Regions from separate parts of the Homo sapiens genome. Here regions 1 and 3 are each linked to region 2. Evidence: fine-mapped expression QTL. Tissue or cell type: testis. Region 2 holds a variant in brackets; each other region holds the start of a gene. All regions are shown on one strand. Distances are between the middles of the regions.

Region 1 (8,000 bases), 53 kb before region 2:
GTACCATTCCTGGCAGCCTACGGGTGTTTCACTTTCTAGAGGCTGCCTTATTCCCTAGCTTATGACCCTCTTCATCTTTAAAGCTAGTCAAGTCCTTCTGATGTTTCAAATCTCTCTGACCTCCTCTTCTGCTTCATCTTCTCTCTCTCCAGCTAGAGAAAGTTCTCTGTTTTTTAGGGCTCATGTGATTAGGCCCACCAGGGTAATCCAGAATATGCTCCCTATTTTGAAGTCCGTAACCTTAGTTACATCTGCAAAGTCACTTTCATCATGTAACATATCCAAAGGTTTTAGGGATTAAGGTGTGGATATCTTTGGGGCGGGGTTGGGGGGTATTCTGCCTATCACAGTGGTATTTTAGGGTGAGAGAGGAGAGCTTGCAGAACATGAGATTCTTGCCCTGGAGGACTCACAATCCAGTGGGAGAAAGAGGAAAAACAGCAAGAAAGTTCCAATAATAAAGAGTCTGTATGAGATGTTATAGCAGCCCAGGAGACTCCTTGTGTACTTGACTTGGACTGAAGATTTTTCATTATTCTCTTCTTGTTCCCTGGAGAGTCTTGCCTTCATCAAGGTCCTTCAGATGGAATTCATATACCCCAAACACCACCATGTGATTTGATTCCTTAAATGTCCAGAAAATCAAGCTGCTGCCATAGCTATTTGGGACTCTACTGCTTAATAAGATCTCAGCCCTCAGCTCAAAGTAGGAGGAATTATTTTCTTCTTTGATGATGAGGCATAACAAGAGCTCATTGTTCCTCATCTCCTGTTTCTCATCATCAAACCCCACTGAGAGCCTTCTTGTTCTTTACTCCTAGCTCTCTCTACCGTATCAATGTATGTCTTTCCTCCCTCCTCTTTGGAGTGTTCTTGTTTCTTATTGTTTTGAATTAGAAGGCACTTTCCCTGGGCAGTACAGAGGTTACTGTTTAATTCTTGCCACTTGTCATTTCTATTTTAATAATGTTTCCTGGCTATTTGGTCAGGTCTGGGTGATAGTTTTGCAGTAATAGCTACCATTTACTGAGCACTTACCATGTGACAGGTACTATGTAAAGTTCTGTACTTGCATTCTCCAATTTAGACATACTGTGAAGTGTAGGTACTATTTTTATATTCATTTGAACCTAGCTAGGATTTGAACCCAGCTCCAAGCTTAAAGCTTGTACTTGACACTATGTACTTCAGTAATATCAAACAGGAGCTGAAATTGAGGGGCAGCATGAAGGAATTGAAGCAGCACAAGTAGATTCAGGAAACCTCAATTTCAAACTCTGCCTTTACAATCCTTCTGAAAGAGGATTTGCTTCTAGAGCACCAAGGTTGCCTCCATTTTTCCACCAGAGACACTCAAAGTGATTCCTCCTGCAGCTTGTATCTATAGTAGCAGCCAACCACAAAGCACACATGGGCATTTGCTCAGCATTCCATAGAAAAGCCTATTTCTCTGGGAGGTGGTGGGTACTGGGTGTGTGGTGTGCCGTGTAGCGGGCCCCTGAAACACCTTGGCCTTAGCAGTTATAAGTATAGAGAATATCTTCCCCACAGGGCTAGGATGATTAAGATATTTTAAGGATTTAGGATGGTGCCTGTCATTTATTAGGCACTCAATATGTGCTGGCTCTCATTGTCCTAAAAGATTTTTAGTCCATGAGTATTCAAGCTAGTAGAATCCTGTCCTTTTAGCTCTACTTGAATCTAGGCTCAATGTTCAGGAGAAGACACGAGATGCATCTCTGTTGGTCCAGGTCCAATGCTGTGAATCACACCAACTCTTGTGAGTTTGAGCTCCAAAAGGACTGGAATTTGAGGCCAAAGAAGGCAAAATATTTTCCCTCCCCATTCTTGCTAAGTTCTTGGGTTGTTGGTGTAATGGAAACAGACAGTCCTGGGTTCAAATCTAGACTCTACATTTGCCTGCTCAAGTTACCTGCCTGTTTCCATCATGGGAAGAACTTGGGCTGTGGAGAAGGGTAAACCTGGGGTCAAAACCCCAGCTCTGCCAGTGAATGGGCATTTTACTCAGTCAAGTATCCTTTCTGAGGCCATCTCTTTTCTATAAAGTGGGGCAGCAGCAGTTCTTCCTTTGCGGAGTTGTGAAGCAGAGCATAATGCATATGGTATAACCTCACGGGGGCGGCAGCCAGTGAAAAGTCTGGAGCTGCTTTACAGGGGCCATTCATTCATTCATTCATTCAGGTTAAGGTTGAGCAAGGGGTCCCACGTGTGACTTATGCATCCTTCTCCCTCTTCAGTGGGAGGACAGCCAGGTGAGGCAGCTGTGGATGCCCTGCCCACAGGCCAGAGCAGGTAAGGGGAGGAGGCTTGCTACACAGTGGAGGTGCCAAGTACCACCTAAGCCCAGCCGCATTGCCTGTTCCACCGCCGAAGCCCCTGGCGCCAAACAGTGTTGCTTCAGCTGGTAGTAGTTAATACTCCTTTACTTGGAAACATTTTCAGTTCCTGGGAGCAATATGGTGGTGTGAGGTCTCACTGTTCACCCGCCCTGTTTCTCTGTGACTGGGATCTGCATGTCCCCGACTCCGGCCCAATTTACCATTCTTCAAGGCTCACCAGGCTGTGGGCCCAGGGCCAACAGGGATGGGAGTGGAGGGTGGGGTGGAGCGTGGGGAACTTTTCCGGGAAGAGGCCCAGCAGGGTCTTGGCTGGCGGCCCCATTAGCCACGGCCCAGGACCCCAGGGTGGGAGAGTGAACGGAAAGGTACTCGTGCCTGGAGCGGTTGCAACATCCTCTGTAATGAGGAAGATACAGCTCAGAGGCACTGGGTCGAAGGACCCCTCTCCCCAGCCCTCCTTTCAGGTGTCGGGGCCTAAAGGGGGTCCAGTTCCAGTGCGGAAGGCTGGGAACTAGGAAGCGTCGCGGACCAGACAGCCCGCCTTCCCGGTCTCCCGGGTGGGGGTTCGGGGGGCGTGGTGCGGCGGCCGGGGCTGAGAGGGGTCGGTGCGGCGGCTCTGCCTCCCCGGGAAGTGGGAACCGGCCAAGTCCCGAGCGGGGAGGGGCAGGCTTTCTCCTGCCCGCGCCTGGGGGGACCCTACGCCTGTGTCCGAAGGAGGCCGGCGTCCAGCAGATGCTCCCGGGGCGGGTGGGGAGTGGGGGAAGGGGGCGGGAGAGAGGCGGGGAGGAGAAAACCCACAACAAAACTTGCGTCGCGGAGAGCGCCCAGCTTGACTTGAATGGAAGGAGCCCGAGCCCGCGGAGCGCAGCTGAGACTGGGGGAGCGCGTTCGGCCTGTGGGGCGCCGCTCGGCGCCGGGGCGCAGCAGGTACAGGGCGCTGGCAGCCGGGGTGGGCCGAGGGGCCGGGGGCTGAGCCCGGGCAGCGCACTCAGACGTCCCCGCCTCTCCGGATGGCTCCAGCAGCTGCCTGGGGCGGGCCCGCCGCATCTCACCCCCTCTGTAGGACCCTGCACCCAGGGCACGGCCGGAGATCTCCTCCTCTGGAGTGCGACCCCTGCGCAGTCAGGACCCAGGCAGGGGCCTTCTCCTCTCTGAGCAGAGGCTGGTCCCCGTCCCCAGGCCCCTCCCGCTGCGCACATCTGGAAAGAATCTGAGGGCGGTTGGGGGCGGGGGCTGGAGTGGGAGGACGCCGGCGGGCGACAGGGAATGTGGGGGGCAGGTGGAACTGCGTAGGGGCGGGGACCCCTGTCATGAGAGCCTGGGCCCGAAGTATCCCCGCGTCTTTCCACGTCAACTCATCAGGCCCCCTAGCGACTCCAACCTCCACCTCTTTATAGATAGAGAAACTGAGGCCCAGAGAGGGGCAGAGGTCTGGCCCCAGGGCGCGTCGGACGCCGGGTGGGTCCCCTCCGGGGCTCGGCTTCCCCGGCCACTGTGCCGCCCCAGCTTAGTGCCAACCACTAGTTGAGCTAAAGGTCTCAGCTGGCGGTCTGGAGTCCGTCTATCTGTCTACGCGGCTGCTTCCCAGCCGGGACAGCTGGAGGGAGGAAGGGGTGGGGGTCCGCGAAGCGCGAGGAGCGAGATCCGCGCCTTCCTGCGAATGAGGCAGAAGCCCCAGGTTCCAGGTCCCCGAGCCACAGCCCGGCCTGGGGCGGGGGACGAGATCTTGGCGTTGGAATACCTGACGCTCCGTCAGGTGGAAGAGGAGGTGGTGGCGGGGCTGCGAGGCTCCTGGCAGCCTCGGGGGCTGGGGCTAGGAGAGGCAGCCGCAGCCTTTTGGAGAGGAGCAGGCGCGGCAGCAAGGGGCGAGCACCCCGGCCCCGGTGCGCGCGGCACTGACTGAGCTGGTCCGGGAGGCGCGGAGGATGCTCACCCAGCGCTTGGAGTGAATTACTGACCTGTCTGCCCTTCGATTACCGGCTGGCCAGGGAAGGGGAAGCTGTGGTCTGCCCTGCTCCACGAGGCGCCACTGGTGTGAACCGGGAGAGCCCCTGGGTGGTCCCGTCCCCTATCCCTCCTTTATATAGAAACCTTCCACACTGGGAAGGCAGCGGCGAGGCAGGAGGGCTCATGGTGAGCAAGGAGGCCGGCTGATCTGCAGGCGCACAGCATTCCGAGGTAGGTCACTCAGAAGAGCCCGTGGACTGCCCTGGGAAAGACCAGGGGGGACTGCTCTGGGGGTTCTGCTCCCTCATGTCCACTCTTAGGGCCCAAGACCCAGTCTACTCTAGCCTAGAGTGCAAGTTAAGAAATGTCAGAGTCACACGACTGTTTTCATGTCATCTGTGGGAGCACACTTTATCCCTTCTGTCTGAGTCTAGGATAGGGGATTACTAATGGTGGCACTTTTAGGCTTGGTGTAGTCATACATGCGAGTGCTGGCCGTGTCCTGCTTGGAACCCTTAATGAGTCCCTATCACCAACACTAGCATGGCGGTGGAGGCCCTTGGCCACCCAGGCCTCCCGCCCTGTTGACCCTTCCTTAAACACACGTCCCTCTCCTCTAGCCCCACCCCTACCTTTTGATCACACTCTACCTCTGCCTGGAGGGCTGTTTCTCCCACTCCGTCCACTTGGAGAACTCCCGCTCAGTCTTCAAGGCCAACTCAAGGCTCTGGGCAGGAGTCAGAAGACCCACATTTTACTCTTGGCCTTGGCTTTAACACACTAATTTGCAAACTGGGGGAGTCAGAGCAGATCATACTGCAGATCTTTAGATCTTTTCCAACTCTGCCTTTCACAAAGTCGTTCATTCAGCAAACATTTCCCCAGCACCCCCACTCCATGCTTGGGGAGACAGGGGAGGCCCAGCTGAGACTTGAAGGATAAAGCCAGCCAAGGTTGCTGTGGAAGCACCCAGAAACACCCTAACCCAGCCAAGGGGGCAGGAGAGGCTTCCCTGAGCAGGGGCATTTCAGCAGGAGCTTTCTAGGGATGGGCAGCAATGCCAGCCCTTTGTGCTTGAGCTCCAAATCTGCAGAATAGAAAGACGAACATGTAGTCCCAGGATTTCTATTAGAGTCAATAAGATGCAGCTGTTTGGGGCCCAGCACAGAGCAGGTGGTCAGTTGATTTGTACTGACTTTGAGTGGAGAAGGAAGGTAGTGCTGAGGGCTGAGGATCCGCCTCTTGATTTGGGGCTCCCTTTCCCTTCCTTCTTCTAGTCCTACCTTAACCTCACACTTTGGGCCTTGAGGTTTGGTTCCCTGGTAGTGGTCAGGGGAGACAGTGGGTCCCACTTACTTTCTCAGTAACAGTAACCCCTGGTATGTCACACCTATTTGATGCCAGCGGTGACAGGCTGAGACTGCTATTTCATTTAATTCTCACAAGTAGCTCCCAACTCCATTTCTTAGACTAGTTAACAGAGGCTCGGAGCAGTAAAGTGGCTCATCCAGGCTTACACAGCAGTCAGAATTGGAACCCATGCCCTTCTGTCTCTAAAGCTCTCCATATGAGAAACACTCACTGCTGGCTGAGCTTCCCCGCTGTCCAGGGGTTTGAGATGTTCCTCACCAGGTGGACTTGAAACTCCTGGAGACCAGGGAGCTCCCCTGTTCTTCCCCACACACCTCCCACATGGCTGGGTACACAGAAGGGGCCTTGGGGGGCTTATCTTGCTCCATTCTTAGAAGAGCAAGGCTGGGTACAGTGGCTCATGCCTGTAATCCCAGCACTTTGGGAGGCCGAGGCAGAAGGCCAGAAGTTCAAGAACAGCCTGGGCAACATAGTGAGACCCCATTTCTAAAAATAAAAAATTAGCCAGATGCCAGGTGTGGAGGCACATGCCTGTAGTTTCAGCTACTCGGGAGGCTGAGGTGGGAGGATCACCTGAGCCCAGGAGCCCAAGGCTGCAGTGAGCCATGATTGTGCTACTGCAGTCCAGCCTGGGTAACAGAGGGAGACCCTGTCTCAAAAAAAAAAAAGAAAGTTGGAAAATTTAGACTCAGATGGGTCAGTGGTATGGCCAAGGTCACACGGCAAACCAGGTAGTAGGGCTGGACCTTCCCAGTGCCTCACAGCCCTGAGAGTGGCTGGCGAAGCTGGAGGGACCACTCTCCAAGCCCTGTCTGTCCTTCTTACCTCTTCCTCCATTCCTGCAGTCCAGCACCTCTCTCTCTGCCAGGGGCAGGCCCCTTAGCCCTCACCTGTCCCAATTGCGCACCCTCGTGTCCACCCACAAACCTGCCTGTGTCACGCTCCTGCCTTTCAGTGGTCCTCGTCTTCCAGTGATAAGGACCACACTCCCTAACCTGCCCTTCATGTCTCTCCTTTGTGGCCTGGGCTTGTGGCGACTGTGCCTTTTTGTATCACTCCTAGTCCCTATCCCCCACCTGACAGTCTTGTGAGTGTGAACTGTCTTGCCTCTGGGCCTTTGCACACATTGACCCCCTTGCTTGTATGACCCTTTCCCTTTTGCCTGGTAGTCATCCCTTAGAATGGGATTATAATACTCAGCTTATACATAATGCTGCAGACCAGCACTGTCCAATAGAAATGTAACGTGAGCCACAAATGCAAGCCACATATGCAATGCAAAATTTTCTAGAGGTCTTTTTTTTTTTTTTTTTTTTGAGACGGTCTCACTCTGTTACCCAGGCTAGAGTGTAGGGGTGCGATCACGGCTCACAGCAGCCTCAACCTCCTGGGCTCAGGTGATCCTCCCACTTCAGCCTCCTGAGTAGCTGAGACTACAGGTGCATGCTATCTCACCTGGCTAATTTTTTGTATTTTTTAGAGAGACGAAGTTTCGCCATCTTGCCCAGGCTGGTCTCAAACTCCTGGGCTCAAGTGATCTACCTGTCTCAGCCTCCCACACTGGGATTTACAGGCATGAGCCACCTTGTCTAGTCAGAAGCCACATTTTAAAAAGTAAAATGAAACTGGTAACATTTATTTAACCTGTTCAAAATATTATCATGTAATCAATATAACAATAAATGGGATTTGATGTCATTAATATTAATATTAATAAGGTATCCTACATTATTTTTTTGTACGACATCTTTGAGATCTATGGACACTACATTTTACACTTACATCTCCATGTGGACCAGCCACATTTCAAGTGCCCAGTAGCCACATGTGGCCAGTGGCTAATGGAGTGAACGGTGCAGCTGTGGGCCTCTGAAGGGCAGAAGCCACGCTGAGTCTTCTGTCTGGGTCCCCTGCTTCCTGTCATGCTTGGCCTAGGGGAGAGCAGCGTAGCATTGTTGATATGACGTGGGCTGGGAGCTCAGCTTTGCCACTTAACAGCTGTTCACTGGCTGACCCCATTGGGCTCAGCTCCCTGAGTTGTAAAGTGGTGATGATAACATTTTCAGTACGGTGCAGAATGTTAATATAAATTCAATATTTTTATTGATGCAGTTTACAGATTTTTACAGATACCAAATGGAAGGCGAGGAGGCAGAACAGCCTGCCTGGTATGTGCACAGGATATGTGAGACCAGAGCTCCTTCCCCTGGATTCTTCTCCTTGGCCTTCTGCCCTGATTGAATTTGGGACCTGGGCCTGTGCCCACACTCTCGCTCTTAGAACCCCGGACTACAGTGGGGTCAGATGGGCAAGTGGCTAATG
Region 2 (8,000 bases):
ATTCGGAAGTGCCAGAGTCCAGAAGGTGTTCAAAGCCCTGGTATTGGATGAAGTCTTGCCAGCCAAGTAAGCAAACACAGAACAGACCCTGCCTGGATCTCTTTCTGGCTCCAGACCCTATAGGTGACAGCCACGCGATAGGAACAGCATGGCAAATATTTGATGATCCTTAGTTCATCACACACTCTAAAGGGTAAAAGAGAAGCTGAAGATCTTCCTGGAGAAATGAAGGGAGTGGTAGACTGATTGCATCGATGGCCTCGGTTTGTAGACTCCATTTCCCTTGTAACATTGTGGTCCCTTCCCACCCTGAGTCTGGGCTTGGCCACCTGACTTGCTTTGGCCAAGAGGGTATTAGTGGACTTGCTGAAAGCAGAGGCTTGAGAAACATTTGCATGTTTTGATTTCCTCTCTTGCTCCTCTACCTTTGTTATTAAAAAAAATGCCTGGGCTAGCTCTCTCCTGGAATCCTGTCGCCACCATGAAACAAATCTAGGCTGGCCTGCTGGAGTACAAAGATCACAGAGTATAGCTGAATCATCTCAGCCAGACTCCCCTAGACCAACTGTTCCCCAGTTGAGCCACCAGCTGCCTGCAGACATGTGAGTGAGCTCAGTCCAAACCAGCAGAACTTTCCAGCTGACCTATAGACTTGTGGCTGTTGTTTTAAGCTGATAAATGTTGGGTTGGTTTGTTATGCAGCAGTAACTAGCTGATACAGGGAACGAGAGTTTCTTTAGACAGTGGGTGGGAGCCTGTGTATGGGCATCTATCCCCACGGGGGAGGAAAGGAATGCTTCTCCACAACCTTAAGCCAAGAGAACTATTCAGAGACCTTGGCTTGAGTCTCTTAGAATTTGAGGAATGTAGGGGCTGGTGCCTGACTCATGTCCAAAGGCCCTGGGAAAGGCCAGCACTTCCAATAGGGATATGTATGCTTCCCATGGGCCAGACATGACCCAACAGGGTCACCCAGAGGGGTGAGGTGACCCCAGCAGAGGAGTCAACCAGAGCCCTGGTCTAGGGGATGTTGTAAGTAGCCAGATGGAATAAATTGCCTGAGTCCAGGGGACAGCAGGTGAGAGATGCGAGAGAGAAGAGGGGCTCCAGAGAACCCATAGAAGTAGTCCTGGAGAGACACAACGAGGGAGCACCTGCTCCAGCTCACCCCTCTCCCAGTCTGGGCAGCCCTTCCTAGCCCACTCCCTCACCTCTCACCAGGGAGCAGGCAGAGCAGGAAAGAGAAACAAACTCACCACGACCCTCTTCCCACTGCAGCTTTCCCAGTCTGAGTCAGATCCAAAAGGCTAAGACAGGCTTAGTTTAAACTGCAGGAGTTTGGAGTTTTAATGTTAGGCCTAGACTTCTTAGATCTGAAATTGACCAGGAAGTGAGAGGTACTAGAAGGTGTTCCCTGAGCGGGCTTAGTGGGGTAGCCTGTGGAGCCCAGCACACCATTCCTGGGTGGGGCTTCCCAGGCTCCATCCCAATCCCTGCTCTCTCACCACCTGTCCTGCAAGAGCCCCTCTGCCACTAGGGTAGCACCTAACACCTCTCCCTGGCGATTTCCAAACCTCCGTCTCCAGCTTAGACTCCCCCATGAGATTCTCATCCACTGGCCAACCATCAGTTGACACCTACCCCAGGATGCCTGCACCTGCTCCAGACCATCCATCGCTTGGTGACCACACCACCATCCACTTGGATGCGTGGGCCAGAAATCTTCATGCTGGGTGATCAGCACACCTCACCTCCTACTCACCCACCTCCTGCTAAGGATCCCTCCTGAGCAGCCCTGCCATCTGCCCCCTTCCCCATCCCCAGGGCCACCACTTGGCCCTGTCCCTGGCTCTGCCTTCCCCTCCTACCTCCCCTGCAACTCTGATCCCTGGTCAGATTGAACCTTCTGAATTGGATCATGCCGCTTCTCTGTATAAAACTCATTTTCTGTGGCCTTTAGGATGCAACTTAGCTTTTGGCCTGGTTCACGGTGCACTTTGAGGCCGGTCCCCACCTGAATTCTCCAGCAGGGGTTTCTGCCTGCCTCTCACCCCTTCTGCTGTGTCACACTGATGGTGCTATGCCTTCTCCCCGCAGACGGTTCCCTGCAGCTCAGGACCTTCGCACAGCTATCGCCCCCAGGCCTGCCCTCCCTGCCTCCCCATCTTCCCCTCCCTTAGAAGGGCAGTGGCTTCCTGCTCTCACCGGCAGCCCCAGCTTCCCCATTGCAGCCCCAGGCCCCCATGTTGTCCCTGTCTGCTCGTGGGTCTGACCACTCCTCCAGGGCAAGGGCTGGCTCTGAGTCCCCTGGTCCAGGGCCTGGCACAGAACTGGCACTGGTGAGGGAGCGAATGCACGAAGGACAGGAGCAGGGGTGACCTGCAGGGGACCCGGGGAAAGGGAGTGGAAGGTGGCTGTGCCGCTGGGTCTGCAGTGCTTCCCTGGAGAGGGAGCCTAGGTCTGAGAAGCAAGGTTAGCTGCACTGCTGTGGCTAGGATGTGGCACTGCCATTGCTAGGGGGTGGCACCACAGGGCAAAGGGCATTGTCCTTGGAGTCAGACAGGACTAGGTTGAATCCTGTCTCCACTACCTACCTACCGGTGACTCTGGAAAAGTCACGGCACCTTTTTGAGCCCCATTTCCTCATCTGTAAAAAGAGGACCAATAAACAAAGGGAGGGGCCAATAACAGCCAGCCTCCCACCCTACAGGCTGGGCATCAGCAAATGCTCACAGATGTCTGCTCTGCGCCCATCCACAGGCAGAGAGGGGCAGACCCCGTCCAGGCTGCAAGGTGCTTCTAGCCTGGTGGGGCAGACGATGCAGCATGAGCCCAGCGGGCAGCCCAGAGCTCAACCCACCAGGGTGATCATGGACTCCGTGATCACCCCCATCTCCACACCCCGTCCTGGCCTCTGGGGGACCTGGCAGGGCAGGCTCGGGCCTGGCGTTCCCAAGCGGGGTGTGGGTGGCAATAGTTACCGGATGAGGTCCAACAGGGCATCGGCTGAGCTCATGATGGGCTTCCCACTCTGCTCCGTGGTCTCCTTCTGGGCCGCGCTGCCTGGGTGGATGATGGAGACCATGAAGATGCCCACGATGACAGCCATGAAGGTGGTCCACAGGTAGTACGCCACGGTGAGGACGCCCAGGCGGCTAGAGGTCTTGGCATCCAGGGAGGCAAGTCCGGACATCAAGCTGGGAGGGCGAGGGGGTCAGGGGCTGTGGTGGGGAGGCCAGGGCCTGGCTGGCACTCAGCGCTCACTCAGCCCCTCCTGGCCATGTCCAGCTGCCTCACAGTGCTCCAGGGAACCCCATTCTTCCAACAATCCAGTCCTGTGCTCCTTCCAGCCTCTCTTTCTGCTCTGCCCTCTCCCCCACGCCCCGGGGCGCAGGCCACACACATCTGTGCCTTGAGACCTCTGCACTGCTAGGCAGAGAGCCCAGGCCAGGGTGGCTGTGGGATGGTGGGGACACTGTTGGGGGAGTGAGAGATTAATTAAGGAAATGCGTGTGCTTTACTTTGTTGCCTCAAGTTTCCCATGCTTGGTGTCCTCTCAGAAGCTTCCTTCACTCTCCTGACCCCTGCCCAGCCAGGCAGGACCAAGCTTGGTCTACCTCTGAGATCTACCTGCCTCTCCCCCAGAGTGAGGAGCCCATTCTAGGACCCCCACAGCCCCTGGCTGCTCCATCAGGACGCTGCCTGTCTGTTTGTGAGAGGAGGGATGAGTCTGACTTCCCTGTGGGTCCCGAGAGGACGGCACCGCAGGCGGTTCCTGCGGGCTCCTGGACGAGCTAATGAGGAGTGAGTGAGAGCGCTGGGCTGGGGGCTGGTGACCCAGGTCCTAGTCCCAGCTCTGCCAACTGGCTGTGTGGCCTCAGGCAAGCAAGTCACTTCCCCATCTTTGGGCCTCAGGATCTCCATCTGTAAAATGGGGACATCTTGGGTTTGTGCCTGGGCCCAGGCTCCTTGTCACAGGGGGCTGTGTTGAGAGGGCTGTGGGTCTCTCTCCTCTCGGCTCCTCCCCACCCCTAGCCACCCTGGCCTGGGCTTTCTGCCTACCAGTGCAGGTCAGCCCCAGAGTACTGGCGTCCTGGAGCCCTGGAGCCCTGGAGCCCTAGAGCAACGCTTCTTGCAGCCATTGTGGGGGGTGTGGGACGGTGGGGGGTGTGGGGTGAAGTGAGATTAATTAAGGAAATGCTTGTGCTTTGCTTTGTTGAC[A/G]AAAGGATTTTTCCCCAAAGCCCTTTCATTCTTTCAGATAAAGAAGTATTTGTCTGGTTTTAATCATGTAAACAAGAGCAGATAATCCCCAGCCACGCTCCTCTTATCATTAGATTCCATGCAGCAGCATCCAGCCCCAGGCTGAGCGTGAACACCGGCCCCCTCCCCCAGCGGGAGCCACCGCCTGTGAGGGCCCTGCCCTGCCTGCTCGCTGGCGCAATGGCTTACTCTTCTGGTAAGACACACTTTGAGCATCCCCTCTTGCAGGAAGCCGTCTCTGACCACCAGGCTGAGTGAAGCCTCCTTCTCTGGCTCCACAGTCCCTGTGCCTCCCACTGTCCCTGCCCCCACCTCACTGGACTGCGGACTCTTTACTGGAAGCACCTCCAGGGTTGGGCCAGGTTCTGATTGAATGCTGGGTCCGCAGTTTGGTAGCAGACTGCTGAGTGAAGGAGTGAGTGAATGAATGAATGAGTGTTTACAATCTCTGCTCATCCTCATCTGCCAGGATGCCATATGTTAGTGATGGGCTTAGGGTGGGTCTTAGACATAAATCCTGAAGGGCTCATAATGGGATTGTGCAGCCAGAGGAAATGGGGGGCTGCCCTGCAATCATCATCAAAGAGAGATTATCCCACGCAGGGCCGGTGCGTCAACCCAGGGCCAAACAGTCCTCCCACCATGACAGAACCCCCCGCAGTGGGGTCCAGCCGCCTCAGGCCACAGGGAAGCCATGTACCCGAGAGCAGGCCCTGCCTGAGGTCACACAGGACAGCAGTGCCCGGCTGGGCCAGAACTCAGGGCCAGACCCAGGCCTGTCCTCCTTCATTCACGTGCATTCAAACCTTTCGCACATGCCCACTCCGTGCCATGCCCTGTGCCCACAGGAAGAAATCAGAACCTGTCCCTGACCTCAAGGAGTTCCTAATCTGCCAGGGAATGGGGAGGGAGAAGGAAAGGACACTGGGCCACAAGTGCACTCAAATGGCCCCTGGACTATGTGGGAGCATCAGAACCGCAAGGGAAGCGGGGACAAGGAAATGCTGTCTTTGTTCAGAGAAGGGGGAATCACTTCGAGCTAGGAAAGTCAGGAAGGGCTCCCTGGAGGAGGTGGCATTTGACCTGGCTCTTGGAAATGGGAGAGGATTTGGAGATGGGGCAGACATGCGCAGCAGTGAGACAGTGGAAGGCAGAAGGGAGGCTGGAAAGTGTGAGACACCGTGCTGTTCGATGTGGCCCGAGCTCAGGTAATATCTGAGGGTTAGTGACAGATTGGTGATAGAAGGGATAGAGAAGATAGGCTGAGCTCAGGAGTAGGGTGGCCTTGTGGCACTTCAGCACAACTCAGGCAGCAGAATTTGCTGGATGTCTAGAAGGGAGAACGAAAAATTCCTTCCATTTGAGAAGATCAAAGTACACATGGTGTACTGGGAGGGTCACTGAAGTAGTACTTGTAAGATCAAAAACCTGACCTAAGAACTCACCAATGCAGATTAGATAGGAAGGGACGGTATAGCAGCCATCCGGAGTGATCGTGTCCCTGGAAGGGTGTTCCTAAATCAATGCTAAGTGGAAAAGCAAGTTACCAGATTGTTTGCATCTCTGCAGTGAGCCCTGGAACCTCCTGGGATGGTGGACTCCCTCCAGATTTGCAGTCTAGGCACATAGATGTGTCTGAGGGATTGTGTGGAGTGGGGTGCAGGTGAGGACTGGATTTCAGGAAAGGATAAAGGCCCCTCAGAAGGCCCCCCACCGGGGACGAAGAGGCCTAACACGGGGGTGGCGCCAACTCAGGGACAGATTGAGATGTGGGAGGGAGTGTAGGTTTTAGACAGAGCAAGAGGGATCCCTGACCCCACCCTGGGGCCCCCATCAGCTCTGGACAGGAGAGCACCCATGGACGAAATGGAGAGAATCCTGGGACCCAAGTCGTTCTGTGCTGGAGCCTCCCTCCCTTCCCACAAATGGCGGAAGGGAGAGGTGAGCAGCCGCGGGAACTGCTGGTGACAGCTGGCAGCACAGGCCAGCCTCCCCCGGAGTGCCAGGGCCACCGCAGGTGAGGGCGGAGGCCAAGAAGAATGGGAGCTGGGCATGCAGAGGTCGTGGCTTCCACTCAGAGCTCACAGGCACAGAAAGGAGGTGTAAGGCCCTGCCCTTTGGCTTTTTGAGGGATTCCTCCCTGCTGAGGCTCCTCAAGGTCCCAGGCTTCAAGGTCAAGCTGTTAAAGGTGACTTTTCTGAGAACTTGCAGCTGGTGCCCAGTGGTGGTGGGAGACCAGGTCGCGTGGACGGGCACGGAAACAAGCAAACTCTATAGGAAATGTAATTATTATCTTTGGGTGTTATAAGTAATTTTTGTTTTGTTTCGAATAGTCCTTCACATTCTCTATTCTTTCTAGATTGAGCCCGTCTTCTTGTGTGATGGAGATGACACCTCCTGGAGGACCCAGCAGCCTCAGAAGCCATCATCTCTCTGGGACTTTACTGTTCCCCAGACACCTGAACACCCAGCCCAGTGGATCCTTAACCTTCTGAGTGAAGCACTGTGGAGTTCCACTGCGAGCCACATTTGTAATTTAGAATTTTCTAGTGGTCACATTAAAAAGTAAAAAGAAACAGGTGAAATTAGTTTTTTGGTGAAATTAAGTTTAATACTTTATTTAACCTAGTTTATCCCAAATATTATCATTTCAATATGTCATCAATATAAAAATTTTTAGGCCAGGCACGGTGGCTCATGCCTATAATCCCAGCACTTTGGGAGGCTGAGACAGGTGGATCACCTGAGGTCAGGAGTTCGAGACCAGCCTGACCAACACGGTGAAGCCCCATCTCTACTAAAAATACAAAATTAGCCAGGTGTGGTGGCGCATGCCTGTAATCCTAGCTTCTTGGGAGGCTGAGGCAGGAGAATCGCTTGAACCTGGGAGGCAGAGGTTGCAGTGAGCTGAGGCCACGCCATTGCACTCCATCCTGAGCAACAAGAGTGAAACTCCGTTTCAAAAAAAAATTTATATTGCTTCAGGTTTTAAATTTTAAATTAAATTAAATAAAAGTTCAGTTCCTCAGTTGCACTGCCTGCTTTTGGGTCTCAGAGGCCTCCTCTGACTCGTGGCTGTTGTATTGGACAGCCCAATACAATAGTTCTGAGTTACAGATGGGGAAAATGGAGCACAGGGAGATGGAGGCAACTGGCCAGGCCCTCCAGTTGGTGAACCATAATGTCAAGATTGGAACAGGGATTTCTGATTCAGAACCTTGTGGGGTTCCCACTCCCACAGTGCCTGTCTGTGGCACAAACCTGGTTTAACTCTGGTGGTGGGGGAAAAGATCTGGTTTGGGCTATGATTTTATTTTTTATTAATTCTTTGAAACAGGGTTTCACTCTGTTGCCCAGGCTGGGGCTCAGTGGCACGATCATGGCTCACTGCAGCCTTGACCTCCTAGGCTCAAATGATTCTCTCACATCAGCCTCCCAAGTAGCTGGGACTACAGGCACTCGACACCATGCCTGGCTAATTTTTAAAAATTTTTAGTAGAGATGGGGGTATCTTGATGATGCCCAATCTGGTCTGGAACTCCTGAGCCCAAATGATCCTCCTGTCTTCACCTCCCAAAGTGCTGGGATTACAGGTGTGAGCCACCCAGCCCAGCTGACTATGATTTTAATGTGATCCAGCCCATGTAAAGCCATTTTAGTTCAATCTCGGAGTTCACAGCCTGCCCTTGGTAATGAGCCTCAGATTTGTGGTGGTGAGCTTCCCATTGTTGGAGGCATCC
Region 3 (8,000 bases), 27 kb after region 2:
CTTAAGAGGAGATTTACAAAGCTTCCTTCTCCTCCCCGCCTTGTCTCTGCTTCACTAGAGACCCACTTTTCTCTTTGTTTCTCTCATTAGAGACCCCCTTTTCTCTTCGTTTACTCTGTTTCACATTAGGAGCCTCCTCACATTTCTGGTGGCGTGGCTTTCTGCTCGTATGTAAGTTTGAAGCGCTAAACTTCTGCATGTATGAGTAGGGTTTGTCAACTGACGGCCCTCAGGGCAGGGTGACAGGTGCTGATCTGGCTTTTTCACTGGGGCTGGGTGGGATGGTAGAGGAGTCTCCTTTATAGCAGAATTTAGAGATCTTTTCTCTGAGGCCTCAGTGAGAGAAGTCTCTTCCTGCCTTTGGCTGAGGAATGACATGGTGCCTAAGCTCAGCTGACAGCGATCTGAAACCGTGCTGGGGACCCCACTCAGACAAGGATGTCTGTTAATTAGTTTGAAGTAGGTGCCTCAGCATGGCCCTCTCCCCAACACACACAGGGGTGGCCCAATACCCTCAAGTCCAGCTTCTCTGGTTCCTTGGGGCAGGCAGTGGGTGGAGATGGGTGGATGAGTCCCCCAACTGAATTGGAAGGTCCCTAGGGGTCTAACTGCTCTGGTTACAAAACTCCAAACCATGCCCAGGCTTTCAACCCCAGCCTCACCCTGCCTAGTGCAGCATCTTGCTCTGTTACGTTCTGGAGTCTGCAAGACAAACTGACTTGGTATCAACTTCCACAGACTAAGATTCCAGCTTTCTGTGAATGAGGTCATCAGCTCCACCCACCTCCATATTATCTAATTTGTTGTAGCCTCTCTATTTCTTTTTCTCAACTGTCTCCTTTTATATTCTCTTTATTCTTGGTGGTTTTACCTTTTAAAAATCCCATTACTAAAATGTTAGTGGAATTCTAGGAAGGAGGGAAAAAAATGGATACACCTGTGATTCACCATGGTTTAACTGGAAGTCTCAAAATGCTCAGTATTTTTAAATGAGACACTCATACACCAAGATAAAATCCTGTGATTTTATCAAGGATAAAAGTTCTTTTTCACAAATAGAACATTCTACCATTTTCCATATTGTTTATGATTTTTGCCTGTTGCATAAGCTTACAAAACAAGAAGTGTTTAGTTTCTGAGTCACAGGCAAAGAGATCAAACAGAGAAATCCCAGATTTCAAAGTAAGATGCTGAGAAAGCCAGTTTCTGCCAAATAATTGTTCTAAGCCTCTACATCCTTCCTTCAATTTATCTGGCAGGTTAATCCAGACTGGAATACATTTGCATTTCCAAACAGATGGGAAAGGCAGCTTTGGCAAAGTAGGCCCCAGATGAGTTTGGCTTTTAATAATAGGCATTCCAATTTGTTTTCACAAAATAATCTTCCTGCAGGAGATATATTTTTGTTGCTGAGGAAAATTAAAGAGAACAGATTGCAGATTTTTTTGTTCCATTGCCAGTTTAATGCAGCAGATAGTTGAGCGTTCTCTCTGTGCCTGACACAGGGCTAGGCTCACGTTTTGGTTAAAAAAAAAAACAAACCCATATGTTGTTCAGCAATATGCAGCTTGGTGGGAGAAAGAGACACCCATATAACCAGCTCTGAAGCCAGGCAGCCAGCAGCGGGGTTACAGTTACTTTCATCAGCTATGGATGATGAGATGGTTCCTGATGTAGATAGGACTTTAACAGGTACATAAGGGAGGGAGGGGGAAGTAACACGTAGTAAGCACCTACTGTATGCTGGGCATTGATGAATCCTTGGTTTATTCCTCATAATAATTCTAGTAGACATATACTGCCCCACATCCCATTTTACAGACAAGGAAACTGAGGCCCAGGGAGGAGAGAGGATATTGCCTAGCCATTTGCTAGCAGAGTCAAAGTTCAGGGTTTCTCTGCCTCCAGAGTCCATGCTTCTTCCTAAATAACTGCTCGAGGCTTAACAGGGTCACTATAGTCGTGGCTCAGTTCTCCAGGAGTGGGTGTTTTCCTTTTAATGGAAGACAAAGTCTAATGCCTGACCCCAGTTGTAGAGATGGCATTAGACATTAGTGAGCTGCGGGAAGAGGACTTTCTGGGAATAGGGACTCTTCCAGGAGCCCATTGACAAAGCCTCTCTCCTTGACCACACTTTAGACAGGCTCCTCTGAGCCCTCTTTTCCACTGGGCTTTGTCCTTGGGCCTTGTCTTCAGCCTGCATAGTCCAGCTGTAGCAAAAGTCCTGCCAAGTCAGTTTAGTGAGGATCCCTCACCCTCCAGCATCCTGATACTGGATCAAATTCCTCATCCCAGATCAATGTCTGATCACCCTGGCCTGCCTTCAACAAGAATCCCCCTACCCTGATGTCTCCTGTAGTCATTTTCTGTCCCCGACCCCCTCCCTCTGCTCGCTGGCTATAAATCTCCAGCCATCTTTGTTGTATTTGTGGTTGGGTCCCATCTCTCTCCCCAGGAGGTCTTGATAACTACCCCCCTACCACAATAGTCCTGAATAGAGCCTTCCTTACCAGTTTAACTAGTGGCAGAATGATTTTGTCCTTAACACCATGGGAATGTCCCTCCCTCTCCTGTAGGAGATGGGGGCTGACAGGGAAAGGGGCTCTTTCCCAGGAAACGCAGCTTCTTCATGGCAGTTACACAGGCTGGAAACCCGGGGCCTGGCTCCCCTTCCTGTCCCCCAGCCCACATCCAATCGGCCCCCACATCCTGAAGCTCCCCCTTTTGAAAACAGTTCTCACGTCTGTCCCTTTTGTCTGCACTGCCGCATCTCCCCCAGGCTGCCCCTTCTCGGCCCCCTGCCTGCCCCAGAATCACCCCCTCTCCACTCAGCACCTGAGGGGTCTCCCAAGCTCCAAACTGGCCTGTCGCTCTTCTGCCCAAAAGCATCTCATGGTTGCCGCAAGCCCACGTGTGGCGATGGGACCTATGGGCCTGCTGGCCTCTGCGCTCCGGCCGCTGCACCTGGCATCTGCTGTCACCTCTGCCTAGAGCACGCTTCCTGGATCTCTTGTCATTTGAGCAGCCTTTAGGAGGTGTTCTCTGGTGCCTGTTTGAACTCACACAAGACCCCCCTCTTTCCCCGCCACAGCTCTTGGCCCTGTGTTTGTCATCATGAGGCACCCTCGCCTCTCCTCACCTGATGGTGCTGGGTTTGTAATCACTCCCCAGCCACATCACTGGTTCTTCCCTCTAGTCCTGCAAAGTGTTTATCACACCCATGTTACAGATGAGAAAACCAGGACCCAGAGAGGCAGAGGGATTCACACACTGTCATGGCACCAGGGAGCTGTGATGCTAGAACGGGACCCCAGATCCCTCAGGCCCACACGCCCCTCCTGGACAGGGGTCCCGAGATGCTCTGGGTGGCTGACCTGTGGTGAGAGGCGCCGGGTCCTCAAGAAGAAGCCGAGGAGGCAGCCCACGATGACAGACAGCACAGACAGGATGAGGAGTCCATTCCGCCTGCACACGTCCCTCCCCCGTGCCAAGATGGCATGCGGCACCATGGTGAGCCTGGCCTGCTGGCAAGGGGCACAGCACCATTCCACGCATGAGAGCCCGGCCGGGGGCACAGGGTCTGGGCTGAGGGCTCTAGCCCCTCAGCAGGCAGGTGGTCGGAGTTGCTAAACACCAGTCGCCAGCCCCACGGCCATGCCCGTGTGGCCGCCTTAGAGGGAAGCCACAATCCTATTACCAGCTGCATCATTAGGAGCTGGGAGCAGATTAGGGCCTGGGAAATTAGAGCAGACCACGTGGTCTAGGAGTTCAGGCCTCAAAGCCAAGCGTTCCTCTTAAACAGTTGAGTGGACCAGGTACTGGAAGGAACAAGAGGAACATTTGCTTGGTTGGTTTGATCTTTACCCCTGCTTCCTTCCAGAAAGAATCAAAAACAAGACAGTAAGATATCAGTTTCCCTCAACATTAATTAAGCATTTACTATGCACCAGGTGCCATTCTAGAAGAGTGTTACATGTACTGGCATATTTAATCCTAACACCAATCCCAAGAAATAAGTACTATTAATATCACCATTTTACAGATAAAGAAACTGAGGTGGGTGGGTGCATGTGCTGCGGGCCAGGCCTGTGCTGGCTGCCTTAGCTATGCCAATCATAGGGAATTGTCCCAAAGATCCCAGGGTTCCCACCTTCATTTTTCAGAAAGGGAGGCTGAGACCCCAGAAGCCAGTCCCTTGGCCATGGTCACAGAGGTCAGAAGTCAGGGCTAGGCCAGTCTGTTTCCACCACATGAACAGGCAGATAGGTTCAAGGGTGCTTGGCAGTATTGTGGGGAATGTAGATTCGAGTCCAGGGGACCTGAGTTCAAAGGTGGGCTGTGCCACTCACCGGGAAATGGGACGTAGATGCTTCAGGGCTGTTTCAAGCCTGGTGCTGGGCACCCTGCAGGCTCTCTGGGCCTATTATTTTTTAAAGATGACAGAGCCCAAGAGACCCACATTCGGGTCCCAGCTCTGCCACTTACTAGCTGTGTGACCTCAGACAAGCATTTCATCTCACTGTGCCTCAGTTTCTCCATCTGTAAAATAGAGATGATAACAGCATCTACTTTGTTAGGGCTGGTACAAAATTCCACCCAGAGGGTATTTGGAAACGCAGTGTGAACCCTGGTGTGCTGAACAGGGGAACGGACTCTTAGGGTCATTATCACACTTAGTGCTTTGGAGAATAGGTGTCTTTTTGCTATTTCTTGTGGCCTGGCCTGCCCTGCCCTGTAAAGCCTGGGGGAATTAACCCTCGTCTATTTCACCAGAGATCTGTAATCTCATTAGGAGCAGTCAGGCAGCAGGCAGCAGGGAATGGGAAGTGCAGTCTGCAGTGAGGGTGGGAGGTAAAGGGTGGGGTGCACACAGGGGCTTCCTCCTCCTGACATAGGAGACAGGGGCAGAGGATGAAGAGGACGGGCCAAGTGGGGCATAGGGGAGAGGTGGGGAGAGGGGACTGGGGCACAGGCTCTGAAGCCATGGACAGAGCTCCTGACTGAGAAGATTCTGATCCCAATTTAATCAGCTCTGTGACCTTGCCGTCTCTGGGTATCAGTCTTGTCCTTTTTAGAATGAGAGAAATGGGCCCAGGTACCTTTGTCAAAGGAACTTCATTTCAACAAACCAATCTTCCAAAGCCCCTGCTCTTTGCAGTAGCTTGGGGTGGGGGGTGGGGGTGAATACAAGTCTGAGAGTTTTTTTTCCTCTGACTTTGACTCTTAAAACCAAAAGTTTCTTGCTACACCTTCAACTCCAACAAATGCCTCATTTTCCAAATAATCAGGTGGTTAGTTACTTCCCAGAAGAGAAAATATGCTAAGTAGGTATTTGGATTTGGGTTTTGATCAACTCCTGGGCTCAAACAATCCTCCCATCTTGGCCTCCTAACGTGTTGGGACTGCAGGCATGAGCCACCACACCCAGCCCAGACCTGGCCTTTAGCTGTGCCATGATATAGGTGAGTCTTGCTTTCTACCACAGCTCCATGACTCCCATTCCCAGGACGTGCCCTATAGCCACCACTGACTCCTCTCTCCCACAGGCTGAGCCTACCACTACCTGCCTACCAGACTACAGCCATTCTTTCCACTGTTCCTACGGTCTTCAACAGGAGAATTTCAACTCACTCTAGCAAATGTTCTTATAGCACCATTTAGTGTGCCACACCCCCTGGGTACTAGAAACACAACAGTGAATCAGACAGTACCTGCCCTGCCTTCAGGAAGCTTATAAGAAAGTGGAGAGACCCCAAGAACGGACTAATTCACACTAAAGTGTAAGTGACTGATAATGAGTTTACTAAGAATATTTGCAAATCAAATCAAGTCTCCTGGGTCAGAACCCTATAATAGTTCACCATTGACAAAGAATCAACTGCCTTTTACAATGTCACTAGATGTGCAAGACAATTTTTCCATAATTACATCAAAAGGAAGTTTGGGAAATGCTGGACGAAACAAAAAGTTAAGCACGTTATTTCCTCTGAGACAGCTCAAAGTCAGACTGCTAGAGTTAAAACCTCAGCTCTACCTTCAACCAGCTGTGTGACCTTGGGAACATTTCTTAACTTCCCTGTAAAATGGGGATAATGCAACAGTACCTAGATCATAGGGTTTTGATGTGGGTCATACAGTGCTGCATGCGCCATGGTTAGAGCGTGGCCCAGTGCCTTGCAGATAGCCCCAGGTAGTTACTATGAAAGTCTTTACAGTAGCGGCTGTGTCGGAGGAAGTCACCAAGTGGAGAATAGAGAATCCCACCCCTCCTCTGGAGCAGAGAACTCCCTGGGCCTGGTGTTTGGAGAACACGCCTGGGAAACCCCGGTCTGCAGCATCGAGTCTATGCTCCCCTGCAAGGCACTTTCACCCTTTTCCTCACCCTTTCAGCATTACCTCCTACTCCTTCCGTCACCCCTCCAGCTCCTATGACACCAAACCACTGCAGGGTCCTGGAACGCTGCATCCTGTCTCAGGCTTCTGCACCTTTGCCTGTGCTATTTCCTTGGCCTAGAATGTCCTTCCTTGTCACGAAAGTTACAGGTTAAATCCCCCTCTTCTTCGAAGCCTTCCCTGATTACCCTAGATACAATACCTTCTCTTTTTCTCACTCTAACTCAGGCCCTTCACAGTCACCAGCTGGGGATTCACCTAGCTCCCTTTTAAGTGGCTCTGACAAGGAAATAAGAATCTATGAAAATAAAATCAAATCTCTGTTTGTTACCATGTCATTTGAAATCACCTCAATGGAGAATCCTCAAAGTTGGAGGGTATATTGGCAGGGGCAGCGGGGTGCTAGGGATAGCCTGAGGAGCAAGGTGTTGTATAATGGGCAGCAGGCGGCCTCAGAGATGCTTCTGGGGAGGCTTGAGCTGGACAGACTGAGATGCTATGGCAAAGAAGAGACATGGTGTTGGCGAAAATGAACGCCAAGTCACAGGTGCAGCTGCCTCACCCTGCAGAAGCAGGTGTGCAGTTGAGCTGTTCTTCACCGGGCCCTCTGCTTGGGTTATGCTGTGGGGAGAGCAGCAGGGGTTGACTTATTTGCTAATGATTAATGATTAATGATTCGCCAGGGCTACAGGCAGGGCCAACCCAGCCTGGGAAGGCGGGGATAGGAAGGCTTCCCAGAGGAGACGTGGTTTAGGCAGAGGCCTCAATAAGCCAGGGAAGGGGGTGCTGGTCAAGGGAGAGGGGAGACGACAGTCTGATTTAGGCCGGAGGCGTGACAGCAGGGCCTCCCAGGGCTAGCAGTGCATCGGTGGGCTGCAGTGGCCATCGGGGCTGGGGCCTTACACCTTCCACCATGTGTCAAAATGAGTTTAGGTCTGGCCGGGTGAGCTCCCATCTGGGTCTGTCGTGACGACAGCTCGGGGTATGTTGGCTGCTTTCCAGAGACATACCAGAGGCGCCTTAATCTCCCTGACACGTCTTCCCAGCTCGCTGGAAGCTGGGCCCTTCCGGGAAGGTTTTCTGTGGGCAACAAATGCAGCTGATCCAGCTGGGTGTGGATTCCTGCGAGCTTTAGTCACCGAGGGGCTGTCCTGACCTCGCTGAGGGCTAGTCCTTTCCCACATTTGCCTCAGAGGATGGGAGAAAGTGACTCTGTGGTGGCAACTCAGACACACGCCTTCCTTTTTCCCTTCCAGTCCCCCGTCTAAATCTGTCACTTAATGGAAATGAGGCCTGGGCGCCCATAAGCCCCTGAGCCGCTCTGTGTTGAGCACCGACTGTGTACCAGGCTCTGGCTGGGTACTCTGACACCTTCACCTAGAAGGGCCCTGACCAGGGGGAGCCAGGGACCCCTCCACATTCACTGGGTCAGTCAAGCCTGGGGGCTCTAAGTCTGTGCAGTACAATTACATAGCATCCATTACACTACTTAAATTGAAATTAATCAAAATTAAATAGGACCAGGCCCAGAGGTTCATGCCTGTAATCCCAGCACTTTGGGAGGCTGAGGTGGGAAGATGGCTTGAGCCCGGGAGTTTCAGACCAGC

Which allele goes with the higher level. Positions count from the first base shown, and alleles are read on the strand shown. Sizes are in standard deviations (SD) of each study's normalised expression. Not every link is listed here.
As copies of G replace A in region 2, the expression in testis of the gene that starts at base 3,192 in region 1 goes down (small effect, 0.16 SD a copy in GTEx).

What was found. PIP is the estimated chance that this variant, and not a neighbour inherited with it, causes the effect.
Region 1: it holds the start of PODN, and the variant in region 2 is fine-mapped to the expression of PODN in testis (GTEx, PIP above 0.99).
Region 3: SLC1A7 starts here. The variant in region 2 is fine-mapped to the expression of SLC1A7 in testis (GTEx, PIP above 0.99).

The regions. Positions count from the first base shown.
Region 1 is chr1:53,059,022-53,067,021 of GRCh38, forward strand. It overlaps PODN (podocan), which reads left to right and starts at 3,192. Exons shown (of 11, transcript NM_153703.5): 1 at 3,192-3,287. RefSeq lists a silencer at 3,170-3,357.
Region 2 is chr1:53,111,777-53,119,776 of GRCh38, forward strand. SLC1A7 (solute carrier family 1 member 7) reads right to left here. Exons shown (of 11, transcript NM_006671.6): 3 at 2,982-3,197. It overlaps LOC105379783 (a long non-coding RNA gene), which reads left to right and starts at 3,053. Exons shown (of 4, transcript XR_007066089.1): 1 at 3,053-3,137; 2 at 3,536-3,804; 3 at 4,335-4,456; 4 at 6,620-6,845. RefSeq lists enhancers at 1-67, 3,404-4,386. The variant A/G (reference allele first, on the strand shown) is at 4,222.
Region 3 is chr1:53,138,941-53,146,940 of GRCh38, forward strand. SLC1A7 (solute carrier family 1 member 7) reads right to left here and starts at 3,698. Exons shown (of 11, transcript NM_006671.6): 1 at 3,375-3,698. The coding sequence starts at 3,509.